Regions from separate parts of the Homo sapiens genome. Here region 2 is linked to region 1. The links come from fine-mapping of genetic effects on gene expression. A gene starts in region 1. The other region holds a variant in brackets. All regions are shown on one strand. Distances are between the middles of the regions. Region 1 holds the start of CXCR1 (C-X-C motif chemokine receptor 1). Region 2 overlaps CXCR2 (C-X-C motif chemokine receptor 2).

What was found.
Region 2: its variant is fine-mapped to the expression of CXCR1 in whole blood (TOPMed, PIP above 0.99).

Annotation. Positions count from the first base shown.
Region 1 is chr2:218,163,958-218,172,394 of GRCh38, forward strand. CXCR1 (C-X-C motif chemokine receptor 1) reads right to left here and starts at 3,005. Exons shown (of 2, transcript NM_000634.3): 1 at 2,951-3,005; 2 at 1-1,287. The coding sequence starts at 1,254. The coding sequence ends at 202.
Region 2 is chr2:218,130,722-218,139,158 of GRCh38, forward strand. It overlaps CXCR2 (C-X-C motif chemokine receptor 2), which reads left to right. Exons shown (of 3, transcript NM_001557.4): 3 at 4,056-6,530. The coding sequence starts at 4,081. The coding sequence ends at 5,163. Among named protein-coding and RNA genes, the nearest start is that of CXCR2, 8.9 kb to the left of the region's middle. The variant C/T (reference allele first, on the strand shown) is at 4,866.

The DNA.
Region 1 (8,437 bases):
CGGTCCTTGGAGGTACCTCAACAGCTCCTCAGAAGGTTGGTGTGGCCCCTGAAGACACCAGTTCCTAACTTCCCCACATCCTATAGCGTCCCCCCAAAACCCAGATAGTGCCTGTCCAGAGCCAGATCACCTTCCACACACAACCTCAGGGTGTTGGTTATTCTTTCCTTCTGAGAAGAGATATTCCTTCATCGATGGTTTTCAGAGGTTGGAAGAGACATTGACAGACGAAGAAGTGTAGGAGGTAACACGATGACGTGCCAAGAACTCCTTGCTGACCAGGCCATGCATAGCCAGGATCTTGAGGAATCCATGGCGAAAATTTTGGCCGATGAAGGCGTAGATGATGGGGTTGAGGCAGCTATGGAGAAATCCCAGAATCTCAGTGGCATCCAGGGCCCGGCCGATGTTGTTGCGGCGCTCACAGCTCTCCTGGATCACCTGGGTCCTCATGAGGGTGTCTGCCAGCAGGACCAGGTTGTAGGGCAGCCAGCAAAGCAGGAAGATGAGGACGACAGCAAAGATGACCCTCATGGCTCGGTGCTTCTGCCCCATGTGGGCCTTAAACAGTGTACGCAGGGTGAATCCATAGCAGAACAGCATGACAAACAGCGGCACGATGAAGCCAAAGGTGTGAGGCAGGATCCGCAACACCATCCGCCATTTTGCTGTGTCATTTCCCAGGACCTCATAGCAAACTGGACTGGAATTGTTTGGATGGTAAGCCTGGCGGAAAAGGAAGAAGGGCAGGGACAGATTCATAGACAGTCCCCAGCAGCCAAGACAAACAAACTTGACCAAGTGACGCTTCTGGGTCAGTGTGCGTGTGGCATGGACAATGGCCAGGTAACGGTCCACACTGATGCAGGCCAACAGCAGGATGCCACTGTAGAAGTTGACTTCCTTCAGGAGTGAGACCACCTTGCACAGGAATGTGCCAAAAATCCAGCCATTCACCTTGGAGGCGGCCCAGATGGGCAAGGTCAGGGCAAAGAGTAGGTCGGCCAAGGCCAGGTTCAGCAGGTAGACATCAGTGACGGAGCGGCCGACCCTGCTGTATAAGATGACCAGCATCACCAGGGAGTTTCCCAGCAGGCTCAGCAGGAACACTAGGGCATAGGCGATGATCACAACATACTTGTTGAGTGTCTCAGTTTCTAGCATACAGGGGCTGTAATCTTCATCTGCAGGTGGCATGCCAGTGAAATTTAGATCATCAAAATCCCACATCTGTGGATCTGTAATATTTGACATGTCCTCTTCAGTTTCAGCAATGGTTTGATCTAACTGGAAGGTTAGAAGGAAGGAAATGTGATTTAGTAGCTCGGATTCAAGGCATTCTCATCAATGATGTGAGAGCAGTTACTGGGATATCCTTGGCTTCCCTGTTGGTTTGGCAATGAGAGCTCTCCTTCCTCCTTTGACTCCAACCTGGTCTTCTTCGGAGGTTGGCTTCCCAGTGTTCTCCACCTTCCACAACTCTAAGGCCTGGCCTGAGTGTGGGGTAAGATGGAATATGGGGAAAACACCTTAGCCCTAGCTCAACCTACAACTGCCTCCTCTCAGCCTATGTCTCTACCTCTGTCCCTCTTTAGCCTTCTCCATCCTCAGCTGTGTCTGTGCATTTGGATGTGGGGACCAGGTTGGTCTTAGACATTCAGGGAAGGGCCAGCATTAAGCAAAATGCAAGAAGGCAAACCTGTTCCCAGGTGTCCCCTTCTACTATTTCTATTCCTATGTTCTCCCTGATTCTTGTTTACCCTCCTTAAAATCTACTGGGGGAAGGAAGTGATAACAACACATTGCATTAAACTGTATATTTTAAGCCTTCTTTAAATGAGGAGCACATATTTTGTTCCTCTGTCTAAAGGAGTTTTAAGTATTTGAGAAGATAAAGTCTCCATCTTGGTCCCTGAAACCCTCCACCCCTGAAAAAATCCACAGAATCATTCAAGAGTTTTCAAATATATTTCCTATTGTGAAATAGTTTACTGAAATAAGATCTTCCCAGAAGCCCAGTATGTGAAGCAGATAAAAGCTGAGCCACTGTGGGGCAGAGTGTGCTAATCTCCGAACCCAGATGGCCCCTAAAGAGCCCCTCAAAGCTCCAGGACTCTCCAGAGAAGTCTGAAAGCCTTTGGAAAGTCACCGAGGTTGGTTGTAAAGACACCTAGCATCCAGTCTTCATTCCATCCTGATTCTACCATTAATAAGTTTCGTGTGTAATCCCAGCCCTTTGGGAGGCCAAGGCAGGCAGATCATGAAGTCAGGAGTTCGAGACCAGCCTGACCAAAATGATGAAACCCCGTCTCTACTAAAAATACAAAAAAATTAGCTGGGTGTGGTGGCGTGCACCTGTAATCCCAACTACTCAGGAGGCTGAGGCAGGAGAATCACTTGAACCCGGGAAATGGAGGTTGCAGTGAGCCGAGATCGTGCCACAGTACTACAGCCTAGGCGACAGAGTGAGACTCCATCTCAAAATAAATAAATAAATAAATAAATAAGTCTCATGACCTTGAGTGGGGTCTCGTACCCCTATAGATTTCAGTCTTCTCATCTGCAAATCGAGGAAGACAGAATCATCCACCTCTCATTTGCTGCCAGGCCTGAGGGTGTATGATGAGTCCACTCAGATCCACACATTTTAGTGTGTTCCCTCCCTACCAGTATTTGCATTTTCACTGAAGACAAAGTCTTAAGGTGAAGCAATAAACATCAAATTGGGGAATGGTCAGCCTCTTCCCACAAAAGGGCAAGGTATAAAAAGAGGGGATGAGGAGGCTGTCCTCTTCACCTGCTAACTCCATGTATGAGTGGTGGTCACAAGAGAGGAAGCGGGCAGCAGAAATCCTCAGCTCCCACAGAAATGAATACATTTTCCAAAATAAAGTCAAGCCAAGCAGCCCTACCCCACAGAAAGTCCTAGCAAACAGAGGTGGCTTCCTACCTGAAGCACCGGCCAGGTGTGTCCAACAGTAGGAGCTGCAGTCAGAGATCAGAGTGACTTAACAGCTAGAGGGCACTTGATGAATAAACGGAAATAAGGAAACCACATCAGATGACACCTCCCTTCTGAGCCCCACCCATGTCTACATTTGGGGAAGAACAGTTTAAGTCAAGGGATCACAGACTTGTGATTAGAGACTGCCAGGGTCCATATGACCAAGTGGGGGTCCCAGGTGTGAAGCTGGGGTTGAGGGTCCATTATCTGAATTCTCCACTCTATGGATGATCATTTTTATTATTTTCCTTTTCTTGAATTTATTTCCATTTGTTTATTCCTAAATTCCCTAGTATATCACCTGTGGAAGCTTGCAACTTCCTGACCAAGTATAAAGGGCGAAGGATTTGACTTACAGCAGAGACTTCAGAAGGAGTCCCCCATAGGAGGGACTTGGGGGCAATCCAGTGGGAAAGAGGAGGAGGACTGCGCTTGAGTTGTGTTTGAACAGCAGGCACTCAATCTCTACTTATTTTGCAGGCTTCTTTGAGGTGGCCTAGCTCGGATTCAAGGCATTCTCATCAAGGATGTGAGAGCAGTTACTGGGATATCCTTGGCTTCCCTGTTGGTTTGCCAACGAGAGCTCCCCTTCCTCCTTTGCCTCCAACCTGGTCTTCTTTGGAGGTTGGCTTCCCAGTGTTCTCCACCTTCCACAACTCCAAGGCCTGGCCTCAATCTCTACTTATTTTTCAGGCTTTTTGAGGGTATTTGAATGGAACACAAACCCTCCTTTGCCGCCAGCCACTCTTTCGCACAATCACTGCCAATGACCAGTTGGTTTAAATGGCCCTGAGGCTGACGGCATAGGCCACTCCCAGAGTCTGGCTGGTTAGCAGAGAGACCACAGAGCTGGGGCAGTCCATGAATGGAAGAGCTGTGGTCAAGGTCACTGCAGCCCCCATCTCAGTAACGGAGAATGGCTTCTCTGGGAACCCACCTTAGCTGCCTCCAGCAGCTAATGGCTGTCCCCTAGCTTGAGTCTTCTGGCACCTTCGTCACTTCTCCATATAACATGAACCCTGCTGTGAGGCATTTACAAGTCAGCCCTCTTCTAGCTTGGGAGCCATGAGACAGCAAGAACCTTCTTCAATTCATGTTTATGTTCTCTTTCAGGGAATATAGTAGGTGCTCAATCAATGGTTGTGGAATAAATGAAGGGAGACATTTCTCCTGTGATTCATGGACCATAAGTCACCACCACGATTCAGTGTCTATTGCTTTTGGCTACACACTAAAGTCACTGGTATGCCTGATAGCTTCACTTCCACACAGCCCAGTTGGTCTGCCTGGCATTGCTTCTTTCCAACCTTCCTCTAATGTTTGGAGCTAATGCCAGTCTGTGCAAGTATAAATCCTGCCCTACCACAAATGCCAAATTTACCATGCCATGGATTCCTACAGTTCTGCACTGGAAAGAATTTTTTTCTTTTTTTAAGAGACAGGCTCTCACTGTGTTGCCAAGGCTAGAATGCAGTGGTGTGATCATAGCTCAGTGTAACCTCAAATGCCTGGGCTCAAGCAATCCTCCCACCTCAACCTCCTGAATAGCTGGGACTACAGGCAAGAGCCACTACATCTGGCTTTCTTTTTTTATATTATATTTTTATTTTTATTTTTTATTTAGTTATTTATTTATTTGTAGAGAAAGGGTCCTGATATACTGCCCAGGCTTATCTTGAACTCCTAGCCTCTAGTGATCCTCCTGCCTTTGCCTCCCAAAGCACTGGGATTACAGGCATAAGCCACCATGCCCAGCCGGCAAGCCTATTTTTTAAGCTAAGTTGTGCTTTCCTCCTGGGCTCTTTTATCATTCATAGATGGTAACAGGAAGTGTAAGGGGACAATAGCCACTCATGCTTTGCTTTTACTGATGTTGGACTATTGTGCTCTAACGCCTAGACTAGAAAGGAGTCAAAGATGGGGTAGTCCCAGGAGGTGGGAGACTCCCTCTATTAATCATCTAGGGAAAATCAGCCCCAAGGGCAGAAAATAGTCACTGGGGACACAGGAGAAAAAAGACGGGGGCCTAGACTGCAAAACACCTGCCTATACTCAAGAAAGACCCTGAGGCCGGGAGAAGGATAGTTTTTGCCACAAGGGGGCAGCAGTTGCTAGACAGGGAATCCCCTGTGAGACACCCCCTTGAGAAAGACCAGGGCCAAGAGCAGGTATATTTAACACCGTATGTTAAGTTCTTCTTGGTGTATAGTTCCCTTCTGCTTTTCCTAAACCCTCAGTAAGTCGGTTCACTATTCCAGTCTATTTCAAGGAATCACTGAGGGGTTAGGGAAGAGGCTGGTCTCCTGGAGCCCGAGGAGTGAAGGGGAGCAGCCCTGCTGCATGAGTGTGGTGAGGGCAACAGCAATGCTGGGGTCTCCAGGAGAAGTTGCATCTGGAGGACAAGGGTGGAAAGAACCTTTCACTTCGCAGTAGGACGAGCATTTCACTGAAGGAGGGAGAAAGCACATATAGATGAGTTTAGAATAAAATTTTACCCACTTCAAAATGTTCCAGCAAGTCAGCCCACCCAACCTATCTTCTATACCTCACTTCCCACTTATAACTGTGCCCTCTTAAAATGGCCTAGAATGTTCCTGCTGAGAAGCATTTTTCCATTCCATGTAGAGCTCCTAATGCCACAAAGAAAGCTGTGACAGGTGCAGCCCGAATGCCAGTCAACTGGCAAAATGTAGTATCTCTTTGGGTGACATCTTCTTACCACTCTGTTTTAAACATGATGACTTCTGCACAGACCATGTGAACAGCACAATGTGGCTGTAAGAACATCTATTTTGTCCCTGCATCAGCCTTATGCCAGCTTCAGCATCTCTTCTCATTCCTCCAGAAGAATCCACTTGGATCTGGGATCAAAGTAGAGGAAAGGGGTAGAGGGAGGTTTCTCCTCTCTCCCCAGTGACGTCCTCGTAACCACAGCAACAGGCTCAGGGAGTGAGTCTGTGACCCAAGATGATCCAGTCAGAGCAAAGTTCAGATGTTTGCTCAATGAATGTGGAAAAGCAAGTATATAGTCTTGTTGCAGTCAGCAGCCATTTTGCTACCATAAATGGCAAAAACAGTCCAAGGAAAAAACCAACACACAGAAGAAGGCAGAGTTGAGAGAATCAGAGAAACAGACCAAGAGTCCTGAACAAACCATGCCCAGAGGCCATCTTCTCTCTGTACTTTCTTCGGTTCCATGAGCCAATAAATTGTCTTTATTGTTAAGACCAGTTTAAGTTGACTTTTCTGTTACCAGCAACCAAAACATGCCCAACTGTGAGAGTTCTGGAAACCAAATGTGGTCTAGGATGAGAGGAGCAGGGAGTAGTGTCAGTGAGACACTGGGTCAAGGCTGCAGTGGTAAAGATACAGGGGCATTGACAGACACGTGACCTAGCCAGGTGCAGACCTCCCAGCCCTGATCTCCAGTCTCCAGAGGAAGCCAGAGAAGGACCTTGAAAAGTGAGCATATTTGTTTCCTGCAATCTCCGTTTTAAAACTAAAATTAAATTTAAAAATTATTTCCTGCAATCTCAATTTTTTTTAAAAAAATTAACAAATAAATAAATAGGCCAGGCATGGTGGCTTATGCCTGTAATCCCAACACTTTGAGAGGCCAATGTGGGAGGATTGCTTGAGTTCAGGAGTTCAAGACAAGCCTGGGCAACATAGCAAGACCTATCTCTCTAAAAATAAAAAGTAAAAGTAAAAATTAGCTGGGCATGGTGGTGTGTGCCTGTAGTCCCAGCTATTAGGGAGGGTGAGGCAGGAGGATCACTTAAGCCAGAAAGGTCAAGGCTACAATGAGCTATGATCACACCACTGCACTCCAGCCTGGGTGATGAAGTGAGATCCTGTCTCTAAATAAATAAATAAAGTGAGCCTGGGCAACGTAGTGACACCCATCTCTACAAAAATGTTTTAATTATCTGGATGTACTAGCACACACCTATAGTCCCAGCTACATGGAAAGCTGAGGCAAGAGGGTCGCTTGAGCCCAGGAGTTCGAGGCTGCAGTGAGCTACGATCACTCCACTGCACTCCAGCCTGGAAGACAGAGTGATGTACTGTCCTGAAAGAAAGAAAAATTAAAAAAGGAAAGTGAGCGTCTGAGCACTCATCTGAAGGAAACGCTCCGGAATGGATTCAGAAAATCCGCATGAAGGACCCAGAATTCCTTGCTTTGAAGTCAGACAGACCAGGATGGAAATACTGGCTCTTCTTTACTAGTTTGTGATCTTGGGTGGTGATAGGAAAGCATTTTTCTATTCTATGCAGAACACCCAGTGCCACGAAGAAAGCCGTGACAGGTGCAGCCTGAATGCCAGTCAACTGGCAAATTGTGGCATCTCTTAACATTTATCAAAATATCCTTATCTATAAAAACGGGGATAATAATACTTACCTCTCCAAGCTGTTGTGATGATGGAAGGCTTGAGCTCCAAACCAGCTGGTACAAATCCCAACTCTGTCCCTGGCTAGATGTGTGCCCTTGGGCAGCTTAGATGCTCACTCTGTGCCTCAGTTTTCTCACCTGCAAAAGGATAATAAAAGTAGGACCTAGTTTATAGGATTGGCATCAGGATCAATTAGTTAATATATGTAAAGTGGTTGGCAGATAATAAGTGTTCAGTCACTTTTAGTTCATCCTGGTCTGGCTGGCTCCAAAGCAGGGAATTCTGGGTACTTCATGAGGATTTCTGAATCGATTCCGGAGGATTTCCTTCAAATGAGTGCTCAGATGCCCACTTTCCTTTATTTTTCTTTCTTTCAGGACAGGACATCACTCTGTCTCCCAGGCTGGAGTGCAGTGGAGTGATCATAGCTCACTGCAGCCTTGAACTCCTGGGCTCAAGCGATCCTCTTGCCTCAGCCTCCCATGTAGCTGGGACTATAGGTGTGTGCCACCACAACCAGATAATTAAAACACTTTTGTAGAGATGAGGGTCTTGCTATGTTGCCCAGGCTCTTATGATCACTTTATTTATTTATTTATTTATTTATTTATTTATTTATTTATTTATTTTGTACACAACCCCCATGGTCCCGTGGGGGAGCTGTGTATCGAACACACCAAAAAATGCAGAACCTTTGATGCTGAAATTCCACTAAAAGAGGGAAGGGAGGAAGGGAGGAAGAGGAGAGAGGGAGGGAAGGAAGAAAGGAAAGAAGGAAGGAAGGAAGGAAAGAAAGGAGGAAGGAAGGAAAGTAAGTTTATCACAGGGTTGTTTATAATAATAAAACAGCAATAATCTCAATGTTCTTCAAAAAATGTTTATACAAATTATACTGGATTTATAAAATGGAATACCATGCTTCTATTTAAAATAATGTACAGCTATAATTAATGCTATAGAAAAGTGTTTGTAATAGGATGCTAAGTGGCAATAAAGATTAAAAAGTAGAATGTACAGTATTACATTTTGTATCAAA
Region 2 (8,437 bases), 33 kb before region 1:
TGTCATCTCCTTCCCTTAGTTTGTCCCTCTAACTGCCAAGTCATCCTCTGTAGAGATTGGTAAACTAAAAAACAACACCAACAACAAACACCCCTCTCCCTACCCTAGGAGCTGGAGGTCACTGGCCTGACCTGGTTCTCCTTGCTGAGTTCTCTACCTTCTGTCCTGACTTGCATGCTCTCCCTCTGGAACCTGAAGCTGACCCATAATGCCTGGGAGCATGAGCTCACCCATACACCTCCAGCCCACCCCCAGCACAGCTGAGCACTGGATTATCCACAGTGAGGATTTACCTGTGAAACATGCTCTGCCACTGCTGCCTGTGCTGACATGGCAGTTTCTGCAGCAGCCTCAGTCCTGGCTTCTCACAGCCAATATTCATACATACAAGGCCCTGCTCTCTAAGAGCACAAGCTCTCTGCACCCAATATGCCCTACATCTACTCTCAAAGATGGGTCTTCTGTTGGGTCATTTGTTCCCTTAAGAGCATCTGTAATCATCTGCTCCCAGAAGTGATCCACCCTTGACCTCTTGACTTCATTGGACATACCCTGGGCCTCTCAGCAAACTTGCTCTCAACCATGGGACTGAGGAGCTGGTGACTTCTTTCAGGTCTTGCTGACCATACTGGTCCAGCAAGCTGTATTCCCAGCCCTCTCAATACCTCCCCAGCCTTCTGGCCAGGCAGGGCCAGAAATGAGGGATTGCTTATAAATTACGTAAGACATACATAAAGTACAATGTTAACTTTTTTTTTTTTTTTTTTGAGACGGAGTCTCCTCTGTCGCCCAGGCTGGAGTGCAGTGGCGCCATCTCGGCTCACTGCAAGCTTCGCTTCCCGGGTTCACACCGTTCTCCTGCCTCAGCCTCCCGAGTAGCTGGGACCACAGGCGCCCGCCACCACGCCCAGCTAATTTTTTGTATTTTTAGTAGAGACGGGGTTTCACTGCATTAGCCAGGATGGTCTCGATCTCCTGACCTCATGATCCGCCCATCTCGGCCTCCCAAAGTGCTGGGAGCCACCACGCCCGGCCCAAATGTTAACTTTTATTGTTGTGATCTAGTATAGTACATTACAACTGATTGAATCTTCTCCATCAGTTGCCTCGGCATGCTGGGAAGGCAATGTATCTGGCCCCTAACTCTTAAAAGAGAAACTAAAAACTTGTCAGGAAGGTGATGGCTAAGAATTCCATCACTCTTGGGGGAAAAGTGGCATTATTTTTCCAGTTTTGCTTAATCTTCTTCAGCTTTCTTCTTTGCTACATATGATTGATGACAACAGAGACTTCCTTTCTGCTAAAAAGAAATCCTCCCTGGGACTTTTGTTGTTATTTTTGTAATATTTGTATTTGCTTTGCAAGGCCGTGTACCCTTTGATTAATCTTTTTTTTAATTAAGACATAAGTCACATACCCCAAAAGTCACCCATTTAAAGTTTTTAGCATATTCTACAACCATTGCCACTAATTCCAGAACACTTTTATCACTCAAAAGAAAAACTCCGTAGTCATTAACATTCCTCTCCCAGCTCCCCTTGACCCTGGAAACCACCAATCTACTTTCTGTCTCTACCAATTCTACCCATTTGCCTATTTTGGTCATTTCACATATATGGAATCACACAATAAGAAAACTTTTGTGTCTGCCTTTTTTCACCTAGACTAACATTTTCAAGGTTCATCCATGTTGTATTGTGTATCAGTACCTCATTCCTTCTCATGGCTGAATAATATTCTGTTGTACATAATACAGTCATAAGTTGCTTAACAATGCGGATGCATTCTGAGAAATATGTCATGTGAACATGGTAGAGTATACGATGCTATAGCCTACTACACACATGGGCTATATGGTAGAGTACTGCTCCTAGGCTACAAACCTACTCAGCATGTTACTGTACTAAATACTGTAGGTAATTATAACACAATGGTATTCTTATATATAAACATAGGAAAAGAACACTAAAAATACAGTATTATAATCTTATGGGACCACTGTGGTATTTGTGATGTGTCATTGACCAAAAAGTCTTTCAGTTGCTCATGACTGTTCCTCAATTTGTCTGTCCGTTCATCAGTTGATGGATATTTGGTTTGTTTCCACTTTTTGGCCTTAATGATGAATGCTACTATGAACATTAGCTTTCAATTCTCTTGGGTGTATACCTAGGTTGGGGTTTGCTGGTTCATGTGGTAACTCTATGTTTAACTTTTTTGAGCAACTGCTAAGCTGTTTTCCAAAGCAGCTGCACCATCTTACATTCCCACCTGCAATGTGGGAGAGTTCTGACTTTTCCACTTCCTCACCCACATTGTTCTTGGGCATCTTTTTCTGAGTGTGCCCAGCCTGGTGAGTGTGAAGTGGGTTCTGGGACCTTTAACTTCCTGGTTTTTCTCTCACACTGGGTTCCATTTTGGGGGTAGATTACGGACTTGGACATGGTTGGTGGTAGGGTGGTCATCCCTTACTCTAAGGCAATGGCCGGAGGGTGATCTATTTTGTGGTTCAGAAAGAAGCTAATTAGGGAGCTGGATTGCTTTAGTTGACTGCTTTGAGAAACTGGGATTTTTTTTTTTTTTTTTTTTTTTTTTTGAGGCAGAGTCTCGCTCTGTTGCCCAGGCTGGAGTGCAGTGATGTGATTTCGGCTCACTGCAACCTCCACCTCCTGGGTTCAAGCAATTCTTGTGCCTCAGCCTCCCAAGTAGCTGGGATTACAGGTGCACGTCACCATACCTGGCTAATTTTTGTATTATTAGTAGAGACAGTGTTTCACCATGTTAGCCAGGCTGCTCTCAAACTCCTGACCTCAAGTGATCTGCCACCTCAGCCTCCCAAAGTGCTGGGATTACAGGTGTGAGCCACCACTGGGATAATATTTTTGAATAACTGCAGCCCACCCTCCACACCCAGGCTTCCCCAGAGCAGGATCTGTGCTGTCCCTGTGGCAAGGGCAGAGCCCCAGGAGCTAGACTAAATCTGAGAGGAACAGGGGAGTCAAGGCTAGATGGAGGCACACACATGCAGGACAGGAAGGGTCTCCAGCAGGGCTGGAAAGCCACCAAGCAAGGGTAGTGCAAACCCTGTCTTCTCTGCTTCCTGCTGCCCCTCTCTTATTGGGTAGCAGACTGGCTGTGTCTGCTTATCCCGCATGGTGGCACATGGCTGCCCAGAGCTCCCCAAATAACCTGTTACGTTTCCACCCACAGGGAGAATCAGGCAGCCCGCTTGCTTATTGTTTTTAATATACTTTTCCAAACTACACAGACATTCCCAAAGCGGGTCTCCTTCTACCCAAAAGAGAAACGCTGGGCCTTACTAATTAACTGAAGACTCTGCTAGCTCGAGCCTTCCAAAACTCCATGCCACAATTGTTCAAACCATTTTCCAGAATACATCTTTTAAAATAACTTTTAGAAAATTGAACAAAGGGATTCATGTCTCAGCTTTATAGTCAAACCATGATCTTTTCTGAGGGTATAGCCCATTTGGAGTTCCTGCTTAATCCCCTGATTAAAAACTGAATGGGGCTGAGTGCAGTGGCTCATGCCTATATTCCCAGCACTTTGGGAGACAGAGGCAGGAGAATTACTTAAGGTCAGGAGTTTAAGACCATCCTGAGCAACATAACAAGTCCCCATCTCTAAGACAAAAAAAAAAGAACTGAGTGACATCTCACATCTCACATTTCTGAACATTAAACCCAGCCTTGATAGCCAAAGATGCTCGCCACTGAAGGATCCAGGTAGTATTGAGGGTTCTGTGGGGATTATCCAAAGAGAACTTTCTACAAAGTTTTAGGTGATGGCGATGCTAAAAGAAATGCTAAGAATTTCTCTCTTATATTAAAGAGAACTATGGTCCTCTCATAAAATGTACCATTTATCACCAAATTTATCTCATAACCTAAGAGCTACCACTTACAAATTTGAAGGGAAAAATTACTACATTGTAATACTCAAGCCAACACAAAGAATCCTATCCCAGTTTCTTGAGTGGATGGGCAAGAATATGGGGAATTTATTATGCAGTAACCTTCATCTCTCTTCTATAGGTCAGGATTTAAGTTTACCTCAAAAATGGAAGATTTTAACATGGAGAGTGACAGCTTTGAAGATTTCTGGAAAGGTGAAGATCTTAGTAATTACAGTTACAGCTCTACCCTGCCCCCTTTTCTACTAGATGCCGCCCCATGTGAACCAGAATCCCTGGAAATCAACAAGTATTTTGTGGTCATTATCTATGCCCTGGTATTCCTGCTGAGCCTGCTGGGAAACTCCCTCGTGATGCTGGTCATCTTATACAGCAGGGTCGGCCGCTCCGTCACTGATGTCTACCTGCTGAACCTAGCCTTGGCCGACCTACTCTTTGCCCTGACCTTGCCCATCTGGGCCGCCTCCAAGGTGAATGGCTGGATTTTTGGCACATTCCTGTGCAAGGTGGTCTCACTCCTGAAGGAAGTCAACTTCTATAGTGGCATCCTGCTACTGGCCTGCATCAGTGTGGACCGTTACCTGGCCATTGTCCATGCCACACGCACACTGACCCAGAAGCGCTACTTGGTCAAATTCATATGTCTCAGCATCTGGGGTCTGTCCTTGCTCCTGGCCCTGCCTGTCTTACTTTTCCGAAGGACCGTCTACTCATCCAATGTTAGCCCAGCCTGCTATGAGGACATGGGCAACAATACAGCAAACTGGCGGATGCTGTTACGGATCCTGCCCCAGTCCTTTGGCTTCATCGTGCCACTGCTGATCATGCTGTTCTGCTACGGATTCACCCTGCGTACGCTGTTTAAGGCCCACATGGGGCAGAAGCACCGGGCCATGCGGGTCATCTTTGCTGTCGTCCTCATCTTCCTGCT[C/T]TGCTGGCTGCCCTACAACCTGGTCCTGCTGGCAGACACCCTCATGAGGACCCAGGTGATCCAGGAGACCTGTGAGCGCCGCAATCACATCGACCGGGCTCTGGATGCCACCGAGATTCTGGGCATCCTTCACAGCTGCCTCAACCCCCTCATCTACGCCTTCATTGGCCAGAAGTTTCGCCATGGACTCCTCAAGATTCTAGCTATACATGGCTTGATCAGCAAGGACTCCCTGCCCAAAGACAGCAGGCCTTCCTTTGTTGGCTCTTCTTCAGGGCACACTTCCACTACTCTCTAAGACCTCCTGCCTAAGTGCAGCCCCGTGGGGTTCCTCCCTTCTCTTCACAGTCACATTCCAAGCCTCATGTCCACTGGTTCTTCTTGGTCTCAGTGTCAATGCAGCCCCCATTGTGGTCACAGGAAGTAGAGGAGGCCACGTTCTTACTAGTTTCCCTTGCATGGTTTAGAAAGCTTGCCCTGGTGCCTCACCCCTTGCCATAATTACTATGTCATTTGCTGGAGCTCTGCCCATCCTGCCCCTGAGCCCATGGCACTCTATGTTCTAAGAAGTGAAAATCTACACTCCAGTGAGACAGCTCTGCATACTCATTAGGATGGCTAGTATCAAAAGAAAGAAAATCAGGCTGGCCAACGGGGTGAAACCCTGTCTCTACTAAAAATACAAAAAAAAAAAAAAATTAGCCGGGCGTGGTGGTGAGTGCCTGTAATCACAGCTACTTGGGAGGCTGAGATGGGAGAATCACTTGAACCCGGGAGGCAGAGGTTGCAGTGAGCCGAGATTGTGCCCCTGCACTCCAGCCTGAGCGACAGTGAGACTCTGTCTCAGTCCATGAAGATGTAGAGGAGAAACTGGAACTCTCGAGCGTTGCTGGGGGGGATTGTAAAATGGTGTGACCACTGCAGAAGACAGTATGGCAGCTTTCCTCAAAACTTCAGACATAGAATTAACACATGATCCTGCAATTCCACTTATAGGAATTGACCCACAAGAAATGAAAGCAGGGACTTGAACCCATATTTGTACACCAATATTCATAGCAGCTTATTCACAAGACCCAAAAGGCAGAAGCAACCCAAATGTTCATCAATGAATGAATGAATGGCTAAGCAAAATGTGATATGTACCTAACGAAGTATCCTTCAGCCTGAAAGAGGAATGAAGTACTCATACATGTTACAACACGGACGAACCTTGAAAACTTTATGCTAAGTGAAATAAGCCAGACATCAACAGATAAATAGTTTATGATTCCACCTACATGAGGTACTGAGAGTGAACAAATTTACAGAGACAGAAAGCAGAACAGTGATTACCAGGGACTGAGGGGAGGGGAGCATGGGAAGTGACGGTTTAATGGGCACAGGGTTTATGTTTAGGATGTTGAAAAAGTTCTGCAGATAAACAGTAGTGATAGTTGTACCGCAATGTGACTTAATGCCACTAAATTGACACTTAAAAATGGTTTAAATGGTCAATTTTGTTATGTATATTTTATATCAATTTAAAAAAAAACCTGAGCCCCAAAAGGTATTTTAATCACCAAGGCTGATTAAACCAAGGCTAGAACCACCTGCCTATATTTTTTGTTAAATGATTTCATTCAATATCTTTTTTTTAATAAACCATTTTTACTTGGGTGTTTATATTACTGCTTCCAAATTGCTACAGAGTGGTGGGGCAAGGGTGAGTGGAGGTCTTGGGTGAGAGTCTTTACAAGAAGTAAATCTCTTTGTTATTTGCTGTGTCATAGAGAAAAGGATGGAATAGAGATGGAGCCCAGCCTTGCCATCCCCTCACCCCCAACCCAAGCTTCCTGCTGTAGACCACACATCATGGAAAGAAATGCATTCTGGGATGCTCTAGGGCGTCTCGTGTCGTTGGGTGAGGCAGTAGTCAGGAGTGTCAGGGGTGAGACTTAGAGTTAGAAGGTGCAGAGGGTTGAGTAAGTTTACCAAATCCCCCTGATCAGGTAGCAGGAAGGCAGAGAGCTCTCCCAGCTCAACCAGCAGCACCCACTGTGAGTGCCCTATCCTCTTCCCTCTCTTCCACCCAAACACACACCCATCATTCCAGGTTTGACAGGACAGCCCAAATGCAGAATGGGGAAGTGGTTTATAATCTGTCATTAGGAGAAAACAAAAGATTCGAATCATGCCTCCAACAGCATGGAGTGCTGACTGTTCGGAGAGTGGGGGGATACAGCAGAGACCACGACAGACAGTGCCTTGCCCTGGGGGAGCTCACATTCCTAGGGCTTGTCTCTGCAGGGTCTTTGTCAAGAGGGGCTCTGGGTCTGAGCAGCCTGAGAAGGAAGGAAGGAGGCAAGAGGAACTGAACGTCCGCAGTTCCCAAACAACCCCCTTCAGGTTAACAACTAAATCTAGGGGAAAACAGGGAGGCAGGAGCACACCTCTGAGTGGGAGGGCTTGAGGGGCAGAGAACTTCCACTCAAAAGCCACAGAAGTGCCTTTCCTATTGCATTCAGCAACAACAATCCCTTCTTTCCTGCTCATTCTATGCTGGGTACTTGCTAAACTCGGGACCAAGCACGACTCAACTGCTCTGGCTGAGTCTTCGGAACAGCTTCTGATTCAGTAGCAGGGAAATGCAGGGGAACGTGTATTTACCAAGGACCTGACTTGCCAGAGGAACCAATGGTGCTCTGCCTGGACAAGGCTGATGGACCAGGTGGCTCCCTGAGATGACTCCCAGAGGGAAGAGGCCAAATTACACCTCACTCTGGTTTCAGGACTCTGCTCTTTCCTCTCACAAGGACTGGAGGAAACATGGTTCTCCAAGGATAATAAAAGGATACCATCAGCCTAGGAAAATGAGGCAGAGATTAAATTATGCTTACGTGAACTCTGTTATTCATCTCTATCTCCTCTCTCTCTCTCTCTCTCTCTCTCTCTCTCTCTGTCTCTCTCTCTCTCTTTCAGACTCTCTCTCATAAGAACAGTCTTGGCACAAATAATTTACCAAACACGCCATCCCTAGGACAGGCGAGTCTGGGGATTGCCTTTGAGTTGTTGACTTCTTTCTTCCCTCTGATGTTTCTGATCCTGAGTCCCAAGGTCTCAGGGTCCAGCACCTTTCTGCCTGATCTGCCTTCTCGGTCTGTCAAAGAGGCCTGAAGTCCCCATTTCCATACATAAACGAGGAAACTGAGGCTTTACCAAAGCAACCTGGCCAAAATCTCATGGCTAGACAGTAGTGGAGCTGAAATAAGATTCCTAGTCAGTTCGTTTTTTACCAAATATTTCGCTTTTCGGTTCGAGCACCTGACAGACAAGATGGAAAATTACATGTAGACATGACCTTTTCAGACCATTTCACTCACACGGGTAAGACCAGTCTACATTTTCTGCACCTGCACTCATCTGTGCCTGGAGCTGGGGTTGCTGGAGTCTCAGTCAGCGAGGCCCAGAGGAGGCTCAGGGGCACAGGTGTGGGAGCAGCCTCAGGCTGGGTTCTCCTATTCTTGGCTGGCAGGCAGCACAGTTAAAGACACAATCGTGGCCAGGCACAGTTGGTCACACCTGTAATCCCA